Linked DNA regions of Homo sapiens: region 1 is linked to region 2. The links come from fine-mapping of genetic effects on gene expression. A gene starts in region 2. The other region holds a variant in brackets. All regions are shown on one strand. Distances are from middle to middle.

Evidence for each region. PIP is the estimated chance that this variant, and not a neighbour inherited with it, causes the effect. A credible set is the group of variants that fine-mapping cannot tell apart.
Region 1: its variant is the best candidate, but not a certain one, in a credible set for the expression of LINC02846 in whole blood (TOPMed, PIP 0.54).

What each region holds. Positions count from the first base shown.
Region 1 is chr9:136,140,806-136,146,162 of GRCh38, reverse strand. No RefSeq gene overlaps it. Among named protein-coding and RNA genes, the nearest start is that of TMEM250, 25 kb to the right of the region's middle. RefSeq lists a silencer at 646-958. The variant C/T (reference allele first, on the strand shown) is at 2,878.
Region 2 is chr9:136,106,883-136,112,239 of GRCh38, reverse strand. It overlaps LINC02846 (long intergenic non-protein coding RNA 2846), which reads left to right and starts at 2,804. Exons shown (of 2, transcript NR_189286.1): 1 at 2,804-2,875; 2 at 3,421-4,391. RefSeq lists enhancers at 1,500-1,619, 1,094-1,705, 2,020-2,129, 1,706-2,317, 2,640-2,689 and 2 more and silencers at 2,420-2,609, 5,018-5,117.

The DNA.
Region 1 (5,357 bases), 34 kb before region 2:
CATCGTCTATGAGGCGCTCCCTCAGGCCTCCTCGGGGTGGCTACTCTCAGGACTGAATGAGCTAAGCCTTTTCCCTCACTTTATACTGTTTAAGCCTCACAACCTGTCCTTATTCCATTTTACAGCTGAGAACACTGAGGCCAGGGGTAGGGAAGAACTTGCCCAGTGCTGCCCAGCTCCAAATCAGGTGGCCAGATGTCCACAGCCAAGTTCCCCAAGCCCTCCTGCCACCCACATCCTGACCCCAGGGCTCTGCTCCCCGACATAGTGATAACAGGGCTCCACCAGCCCCCAGGGTGCCGGGAAGCCAGGGCAGCTGGCAAGGTGCAGGTCTCCTGCCCTTCCCCGGCCCACTGGGGGCCCATCTGGATGGTGCTACTCCCTCAAGTAGATTCAGTCCAGCTCTGCCTGGAGGCCCCAAGGGCAGGCAGCCCGAGCAAGGGGCTTCCTAGCAGGTGAGGGAGGCCAAGGTCTCACCTATGGGCTGAGTTGGGGGGAGAGCATCTCAGGCTCCGGAACCTTCCAGGGATTGGGGACTGGGTCCAGGAGTGATGTCTGCAGAGAGGAAATGGAAGAGGATCCCAAAGCCAGGCAGCCCCCACTGCGTGGAGGACGAGGAAGGGGAGGAGGGGAGAGAGGAGTGGGTGGGTTTGCCCCTCCAGCCCCGGGAGCCTTGGGTGGGTGACGCATAAACAATTTCTGCCCGGAGCAGACGCTGTCTGGGAGCCTGGAACGGCACCCCTGCTTTCCCTGCCCCTCTCCAAGTCCCAGCCATGGGCCACTCACACATGTAGGTCACTCTTCAGTGGGTCCCATGGGACCCGTCCAGGTGCCAGCCTCCCAGCTCCTGTGATGGTGCCCCTTCCAGGTATGCCCCCCAAATGCCCTGCCCCCAACCAGAGTCAATGATTTCCTCCTTACAGAAACACAGCTGCAGAATCCCTCAATCGTGCTTAAGCTACTGGGCTTTGGAGGACGAGGACTCTTGGGCACATTGGCCTGCTGGAGGGTCTCTGCTGCCCTTGGCCTTGGCAGAGCTGCCTGGGCCTTCTGAGCAGGTGGGCCGCCAGGCCCTGAGCATTCCTGAGAACGCTGACCCCTGGGGAAATGGCGGGCAGAGAGGATCCGAGAGGCACGCGTCTGTGTCGCAACCAGGACTGGAGCCTGCATCTTTCCCACAGGTGCCTTCTGGGGCCTCAGTATTCCCATCTGTCCAGTGGGGCTGGAGTCCCCCAAACACCTTCTTACAAAATGCTTTTGTAATGCTCGATCCACACAGCATCCCCAGGACGTGGGGCGGCACTGGACTGGAGGTCCCGGGATTTTACCTCCTCCAGTCCTTGCCATTGTCCTGGCCTCCACAGTAGAGCTCAGGCCCGTTGTGTGGATGAGAAAATCAAGACCTGGGAGCAGAAGCCTCTTGCCTGACCTACTGTGTTTGTAAGTGGTGGGCTGGGCTGCAGAGCTGGACCCACAGGGCCCGGAGTGGGTGGCGGGTGACATGTGCTTGTGCTTCGGGGGAACCCAGGCAGAGCCGTTCCCAAGAGCTAAGTGTGGGGGGCCAAGGTCTTTGTCACCACCTCCCACAGCCGAAAGTCTAATGGTGAAACACTAATTTGCAAATAGCATCCAGCCCTCCGGCTGCTGGCCCAGACTTGGAGATGGAGCCGTGACCCAGCAGAGGGAAGTCTTGCGTTCCCCATTCCTTGGACGTGTCACCCTCTGCAGAGCGCACAGCCAGGGAGCCCATGTGGGTGGGTAGGACGTGGAGACTCTGCCCTGGACCCTGGCAGTGCCCTTCTCAACAGCCTCTCCACCCACCTGCCAGCCTCTCTCCAGACCTGCAGGAGATACCACCTCAGGGCCTGACCACGTGTGCACTGCAGAGCCGGCCAGGGGGCTGTTCCTGACTCCTCCAGGGGCCTAAGTGTCCCAGCAGTCAAATTCTGCCAGCCCAGAGGCATGGACCCAGTGCACCTAGGGGGAAACTGAGGCACAAGAAGATTAAATCATATGCTCTATGATCCTGCCCAAGTCAGGATGGGGTGACCAGGGTGTCCCTGGAGCTGCCTAAATGCTAGCAGGGAGAGGGGTGAGGTGGGGGGCTGGGCTGCAGAAATGGGTGGGCCTCCGGGGAGCAGGGATTCCAGCTGCTGGGGGCCAGTGCAATCCAGAGACTGGGCTGAGGGAGCAGGCGAAAAGCCCAGTGCCCCCTCCCCGGCATGCACAGGCTTCCCAGGCCAAGGTCAACCCAGACCCCCTGGAGGTAGCTGGGCTGGCCCCAGTGGGCACAGAAGTCCTGCTGTCCCTGTAACTGGTCCCAGCTGGTTTTAAAACCTTCCCAAGTGTGAGCAGTGGGGATGGGAACCCTCATCCTGGCTTCTTGGATGAATGCCATCAGGGTGAGGAGCTTGGGTTGGGCCTCTGGGGAGGGGCAATAAAGGGCTCCCTCCAGGGAGGCTGCAGGCCTGGCCTGGGGACCTCGGTGCAGGGGGTGGGGGTTCTTGCTGGTTCCTCACCCTCCCGGAAGCACAGGGGCAGATCCGGGAGGTCAAGGGAGGGCGAGGCCTCCACTCCCCACCCCGGCCCCCGGCCAGCTCTGCTCCTCCTCTCCCCCACTCCTGGGGGTCCTGTTGACTTGGAGGACTTGGATGGGGAGAACTGAGAGCCTTGAGTGTCCCTTGAGCGCCCCCTGGTTTCACAACCACAAGCCTGGAACCCTAGGAGGGCGGGAGACTTGTTCCAGGTCTCACGGGAAGAGGCAGAGCCAGGACTCCCTGTCCAGGACCTTGCCTCAGTTTCCCCTTCCACTGGATAAACTGGGGCCCCTGCCACCCCAGGACCTCTGGGAGACCTTGGGGATCGCAAAGGCAGCCG[C/T]CCTGGGCAGCCCGCAGGAGGGCACGGGAGGAGTGTCCCCCAGGCCATGGGGCACGGACTGACCTGTGGCCCAGCCCACCAGCCAGGAATGGGGACCGTCCTGGCGGCTTGGGCTGGGGGCCTCAGCACCTGCGTGCTCCGAGAGGTCCTCCACATCTGCATCCATGCCCAGGGTCGGGACCCCTCCTTGCCTCAGAGCCCGGCCAACCTCAGAGGCCGCCTGGGACACATGGAAACAGATGAATCATAAGTTTTAAATTTTTCCAGTTTTACAACCTGGAGACAGGCTTTTAAACAGCCTCACCAGCCAGAGGGTGGGGGTCTCGCTTTAGGAGGGACGCGGCCGCCCTGAGCAGGTGGGGTATGCTTGCCCCCACCCCCACCCAGGGATCCTTCCCGAGCCCCCGGGGAGCCTCTGGCCATGAGCGATGATGCGGAGAACCCAGGGGACTGTCCCTTCGGCTCGTAGAATAGGGATTCTGGCCCATGAGCATTGATCTCTCTGAGTTTTTAAAGGAAATTTTATTTGTTTGGGGTTTCTAGTCATTAAGTTAAAACCAGTAAAATAGAGCAAAATCAATACCTGTAGGACCCAGCACAACCAGTCTGCATTACGATGCTAAATAGGCTGAGTAAATGGTGAGCCAGGGTTAGGCTGGGGGAAGGGCCTGGCAAGTGTGGGAGCCTGGGGAGTGTGGGGAGGTTGGGGAGGGAGGGAGCCCCAGGAGGTGGAGAGGGAGCCCTGGGAGGGAGAGTGGGGTCCTGCGGGCTTCTCCTGAGCTCGAGGGGAGCTGCGAGGACTGCAGGGGCCAGTGCTGGTGGAGGCATCGGCTTTGGGGCAGAAATGGTGATCTCGAAGTCCAGAGGGTCTCAAGCCTCCCTGCTGCCCCTCACACCCTCTGCCCTTTGAACCCCAGAAGCATGCAGGGACCCTAAGCTCCCTGGATGTGCCAGCTCTGCAGAGGGTGCCGACTGCTCTAGGCCTTGCCTCCTTCTCAGTGATGCCTGACGTGGTAGTGGCAGGAGGAGGCCCTGCCCCGGGTAGGTGCTGCCAGCCTCCCACTGTGAGCCTGCCCTGGGCCCCGTCCCCACGAGTCTCCCAGAGGTGGCGTTGCTGTCCGGTCTGCAGGGAGGGCGGGCCCTGGGCTGTAGGCTTCTTGAGGCGGGCACTGGTCACAGCTGGGACTAGGTGAGAGCAGAATTAAGCTTTGGAGAATGGCTGGGACTGCAGTTGCTGCCTTGGAAAGCTCCAGAATGCTCTAGAAAGCTCGCTATGCTGCCAGGAGGCCAGAGCTGGGCAGGAGCTGAGGGTGAGCAGCCTCCGGGTTGGGGTGGGCAGAGACAAGGGAGCTCTGCCGGGGTGGGATGGGCTTAGCAGGGAAGGAAGCTGGCTCGCTGGCTCGGTGCTGGGCGCCATGAGTTTCCAGAAGCTTCTTGTCTTGGGGGAGCCACACGTGTGCCTCAGCCAATAGGGCCTGGCTGGAAAATCCACAGCTTCTGGTCTCTAGCGCTCAGCCCCTCACAAGATAGGGAATGACGGGGCAGGCGGCCTGCACTTAGCCTCTATATTTTATTTATTTATTTTGAATTTTTATTCATTTTTATTGCTTTTTGAGACGGAGTCCCCCTCTGTTGCCCAGGCTAGAGTGCGCAATCTCGGCTCACTGCAACCTCCGCCACCCAGGTTCAATCAATTCTCCTGCCTCAGCCTCCCGAGTAGCTGGGACTACAAGCATGCACCAACACGCCCAGTTAGTTTTTGTATTTTTAGTAAAGACAGGGTTTCGCCATGTTGGCTAGACTGGTCTCAAACTCCTGACCTCAGGTGATCAGCCCACCTCGGCCTCCCAAAGTGCTGGGATTACAGGTGTGAGCCACTGCACCCAGCTGACCTCTATATTTTAAATAATAGCTTTATTGAGATAGAACTCACATCGCATCCAATTTATCCAGTTAGAGCGTATGATTCAATGGCTTTCTGTATACTCACGGATGTGTGCAACTATCAACACAGTCAATTTTGGAACATTTTCTTCACTTCAGAAAGAAACCCCAGGAAATTCTGGCACGAGCTACGATGGGGACGTGCCTGGAGGATGTTGTGCTCAGGGAAAGCAGCCAGCCATGAAAAGGCAAGGCCTGCCTGATTCCTCCTCCGAGAGGCCCTGGAGACAGACAGCAGAGGCGTGTACGCCAGGGGCGGGGGGAGGGGGTGGGAACAGAGCTTCAGTTTGGAAAGAGGGAAAGCTGTGTCGATGGAGGAAGATGTTGTTTGCACAGCAACGTGAATGCACTTAATGCCACTGAGGCGTGCGGTTCAGAATCGTGAGGATGGAGTGATGGTTAATTTCATGTGTCAACTTGACTTGGCTGCTGGGTTCCCAGATATCTGTTCGAACATTTGGCTGGGTGCAGTGGCTCATGCCTGTAATGCCAACGCTTTGGGAGGCCGAGGCCAGAGGATCGCTTGAGCCCAGGAG
Region 2 (5,357 bases):
CAGCCTCGACCTCCTAGGCTCAGGCCATTCCCCGGGCAGAGGCATGTCACAGGCTCCAAGAGCCAAGGAGCTTCCCCATGGCCACAGTGTGTTCCTTGCGGGAGCCCCGCTAACCCGGCTCCTCTGGGGGGGGCTGAAGAGCCCTGTGGGGGATCTGAGGGGCGGTGGAGCTGCTTACGACCGCTCCCCAGCAGACCTGCCATCCTCGGGCTGTATTAACCAGGCGTTTCCCCTGTTTGACAGGTTCTGTTTTCAAAGTTGTTCTCCCCTTGAGGTCCCAGATGACCGGCTGAGCTGTGCAAGGGCCACGGCTCCAAGGAAGGCCGGAGCTACTTGGAGGTTGTCCCCAGGCCCTTTGTCCACAGTGACAGACACCCAGACCAGACCATGCTGCAGTGACTGGTAAGGGTGCCACCCAGAGAGGGATCTCCAGGGACCGCCGATGGTGCTGTATGTCTGGGGCTGTCTGTCTTGGGCCTCCTGGGCCCTCCCAGCAGCAGCTGTGTTTCTGCTGGGTGGGGAGACGTGCCAGGACCACTGCTGGGGGACCAGCGCTTTCCACGGACACGTCACATTTAGAACAGCCTGATTTGCTGGTGGTGGGCTCCACATGTCTGAAAACACAGGAGTGACCTGCAGGCCTGGAGGCTTCCAGAAGCTTCCAGCAGTGGTGAGGAGTCGAGGACTGGGAAGGTGTTGAGACAGAACCTAAGCATGTGGCCGCTGCGGCTTCCTGCAGAGATCTCAGGCAGCGCGCAGCCGCTTCGGAGGGAGTTGGGAGCCGGTTAGGAGACAGGATCCATCCTTACGAGGCGGCTGGTCCATACAGCGGTTCCCCTCCCACTGCAAGTGGCCTCGGTTGCCTGCGAAGGAGGGAAGTGGCCCCGGGGACTCAGGGTGGCGGCCGGACCTGAGTGAGCTGGGAAGGACAGGTGTGGGCAGGGAGGGCCGCTGGCTGCTCCTGGGGACGGTGGGAAGTGGAGGTAGCTGCAGACTGGCCTGGAGGTCAGGAACGTGCCGGGAAGGTTCTGGAATCAGAGCTGCCCGGCGCTGGCTGGATGAGAGGCCCCCAGTGACAGCAGTGGGTTTGGGAGTCATGGGTTTGGCAGTGAGGAGCCTGGCACCAGAGGTCAGTGTTCGGCCTGGGGGATGGGGGAGGGTGGGCGGCCCTGGACCAATCCCTGAGCCTGGACCACAGAGAAGGTGTCCAGCCCAAGGCAGGCGCGAAGCTGAGGGGGAGCTGGGCGGGCCGGGGAGGGAGGAATCAGAGGGGCTCTGGGGAGGGCGGCCCCTGGGTGGAGACGGGTGGGAGGGAGGCCTGGAGGTGGGGAGCGGCTCCATCTCAGGCTGAACAGAGTGCTGAGTCAGGAAGTCACAGCCGGGCGCGGGGTGTGGAGGAAGCCACCAAAGCCAGCCCGGGGCTGTTGACTTAGTGGGGTCTGATTTTCAGTCTGTGCCTGGCCCAGGGGGATTGTGCCGAGTGGCTCCCAGAGCCCCCCTTTCCCCGTCGTCCACCACACGGGGACACCAGCTTGGGCACCAGACCGGGGGTCTCTGTTGCTGAAAAGTGGAATCCAAGCTGAGGAGCCAGCAGAGGGCAGGCAGTGGCTGGAAGGGGGTGGTGCTGGGGATTTCAAGATCTAAGATGCTCGGTCAAGATGGGCCACGTGCTGTCCCATCCCCAGCACAGGGTGGCCTCGGAAGGCTGCCCCGTCAGAGCCCCCATGTGCAGCCTCCACAGGCAAAACCACCCCAAACGCACACACACAGGAATGTCCTCCACCTCCCGCCCCTCCGCAGGGGGCAGGACAGGACAGCAGGGGCTGAGGGGGAAGGTGCCCGGCTCCAAACACAGCCCCCAGCAGGAAGGACGGCAGGGCCAGGCGCGGCCCCCACTCCAGACCAGAGCATGACTCCCCCGGTGCCGCTGCGTCGATGGTGATATTGATGCTCCGTGATCTTGGAAGGGCCTGTCCCCTCCAGCGTGCGATCGGAGGAGGGCGCGGGCCCTGGCAGTGCTGTGAGTGCTGATTCAGCGTTTTCTGGGGGAGACAAACGTGCTTCGATCTGCAGAGGCCAGTGCGTTTCTCTTCTTCCTTATGGGTCTCCTTTGGAAAGGGCCCCTCTCTGCCCAGGCCCTCCCTGCAGGCCTCCGCTCATGCCCTCGGAGGCGGGGGCTGCCCTGCACCCAGCCCCGGTGAGCCGCACTTCCCATGCAGCAGGCTGCAGAGGCCGCAGTCCAGAAACACCCCCCACCCCACCGCCTGGCGCGCCTCCTGACGGTTCCCAAAAGAGAGAGCGCCCCGCCGCACCAGCATCCTTGCCCAGGCGGGGCCGTCCGGGTGCAGCTGATTCAGCGGCTCCTGGCCCGGCGCCCCTCCCCCAGCCCAGCTGGGCAGCGTGCCCGGGCATGCCGGCAGCTGTGTCACACGGGCTCTGGCAGGGCTGCTGTGGCGCGCACTGCGCCTGGGGGCGGGGTTGCAGGCTGCTGCGGCGGGCGGGCTGCCAGGCGCCCCCTCCCTGCGGGGCCGCTCCCCTTCCGTGCAGTCCTTGTATGGCCTCCTGCAGAGGAGAGGCCCCGTGGGAGGCGGAAGGCAGAGCTGGGTCTTGGTGCTCCTGGGCTACCGTCAGCCCCCAGGAAATAATCACATCCCAAAGCCCCGTCAGCGGATCCACCGCCACATCCAGAGTCTCCCCATAGCCCGGGTCGGGGCCGCGTTCCTCCATCTCAGGCCAGCCCTGCTGGGGCCACCTGCCGTCCTGACCTGGGCGGAGACTGGAAGGGGCAGGTGGGGCGGGGCCCAAGAGTCCTACCCGACTAATGGGGACAGCCGGAGCCAAGGGGCTCTCAGGGCAGCAGGAGGGCCATGCAGGGGTGAGCCACAGCCCCCAGGGCCCCTCCTGCCAGCTTCGCTGCGCCCATGAGCTTGGGTTTGCCTCTAGCTGAGGGCATGGGGCAGGCCTGGGGAGCCGGTAGGCGCTGACCCAGCGGTGACCCGGGCCCAGGGGAGGAGGGCGCCGGCTCTATTTGGGAAGGGGCTTCGTAAAGGGGCTTGGTTAATTTATGGGAGAACCTCGGTGTCCCCGCCCTGTGAGGGCTGTGGGCGTGGGGTAAATGCAGGGCGGGGAGGGGAGAGGGGTCAGGGCTGAGGAGGAGAAGCAGGGGCAGGAGGCAGGGCGGGGAGGGCAGAGGGGTCAGGGCTGAGGAGGAGAAGCAGGGGCAGGAGCGGTGAGGAAGAGGGGCATTTGGTCGAGGTTGGGTCAGGTAAGGACACGGTGGTAGGCAAAGGCCAGGGGGCAGGTGGGGTGCCTGGGAGGTCCGTGGTCAGAGGATGGGTGCTGGTGGGGCCTGGAGATGGCGGTGCTGCCTCCACCCTCCTGAGCCTGGAGGCCTGACAATTGCATCCGAAAAATCCACAGCCACCATCGTGTCAGCAGCACGTTGACCATGGCTCACGACATGGGGACGGGCATTCTTGCCGCTTCCTCAGAATATTAACGACGGTCCCAGCAGAATGCTGTATGAATATTCATATGGAGCTCAATCAAGCCTGGGCTGGCGGATGGCACAGGGAGAGGCGCCGTGACAGGCTGGGCCCGGGTCCCAGTGGGCACACCTTGGCAGGGTGTGGCCGTAAGTCTCCGCCAGCTCCAGCCAGGATCTGCCTCCCTCGGGATGGGACAGGCCTGGGCCTGTTGTATGGCCACAGGCAGAAGAGGCCGATGAGTGACATGACATCACCACTTAGTGACTGCCCTCGTCCTGGGAGCCCAGATGCTGGGGCGGGGCTCCTTCCTGAAAGACCCAGAGAAGTTCATCTCAGGTTTAATGGGGGCACTGCTGCCTCAGAAGCCAGGCAGTGGGTGGTGAGGTCCCTGTCCTCACTGGGGTCTGCAGCCGAGGAGGACTGGCCACCGAGGCCCAGGCCAGGCACAGGGATGCTGGGTGGCCATGGCCAGTCCTCCCGGGAGCCCCTAGCACCTTGGGCCTGCCCCCAGCTCTCACGCCGGGAGAGGTTTTTTCCCACTCCGGTGGCCGACGCCCTGGTGAAGGGATTCGCAGAACGGGAGCACATGGATTTCCAGTTCTTCCCAGCGGGCGCACGTAGGCCGGCACCCTCTCTCTCGTCTTTGGGCAGAACTCGAGTGCTGCTAGACCCTTGGCCCCGCTCACTGCGCTGGGCCGCACTGCACCCATTTCCTCCCAGCAAGGGCGGTCCCTGGACTCCTCTGACCTGAACTGCTTCCGAGTTTGCTTCTCAGAACCAAGAGGGGCTGGCTCTGCGCCCTGCCTACCTGTCCAGGGGTGGGGGCTGCCCTTTGAAGCTATCAATCTGGGTTTTAAGTGTGGATTCATTATTGACAACACCATGACGTTATGCTGACATGAATTATTTGTATGTTTTTCAAATTGTGCTGTGATAACCCTGGCTGTCTTCCTGCTCCCATAGTGGATAAAAGCGTCCGAAAGAATGCCGCCATCTCTCTTCTCCCCACAGCCTGGAGCTGGGCCAACCGGAACTCAGCCACCACCTGTGCTCGGTGCAGCCTGGTTTGACCCCCACCCTCCTCCACCTGGCTGGGGTGCGTGCCTGGCACATGTATGTGTGCACGTATGTGCGTGTGGGGGTGTGGCATTTGTGTGCCCAAGTGTTTTCTGCTGTCGTGTCTCACGTCCTGGCTCTGCCGCCCTCCACATCCATGGCTCCTTCCCGTGCTCCCTCAGATGGTCCCCCAAAGAACGGAGGGACTCCGGCCCCTTGAGGAACAGGGAAGCCCCTGCCTGGGTAGCCACTGGCAGGTGAGTCCTGTGTTCCTGCCGAGAAAAAGTCTGCTTTCAAACGCGGATGGGCAAGCACTCCCTTTGCGGTCGCCGCGCTTGGGGTCGCCGGTTGCTGGGCTGATTGGCAGGAAGAGGTGCGGCTCCCCGGCCCCTCGTGAGGCTGTGCAGCCATCTGCCCCTCTCCAGGCCCAGCTCTTCCTGTGAGATAAGGGGGCGGGAACCCAGGGAGGCTGGGCCTACAGCGTGCAGTGAGGTGAGGTGCTGGACTAGCTGTTCTCAGGTCACCCCCAGGGAAAGCCCTAGGCCCGCATTCTGTCCCCAGGTGGGAAGTTCAGGGAGAAGGAACCAGGGCTGGGGTTGGACTCAGGGCGGGGGGCGGGGGGGCGGGGCTCACGATGTCACCTGTGGCACGGCTGCCGCAGTGGGCCAGGGAGCTCCAGATTCCCTGGGTCACCGTCTTACCAGGGCCTGGGTTGGGGCCTGGGTCGGGGCCATGGGATTGCAGAAGCAGCACTGGAGGCTGGTGCCCTGTTCCTTCCACCAAAACTGGGCAGACCCTCTCCTCAAGGGAAGG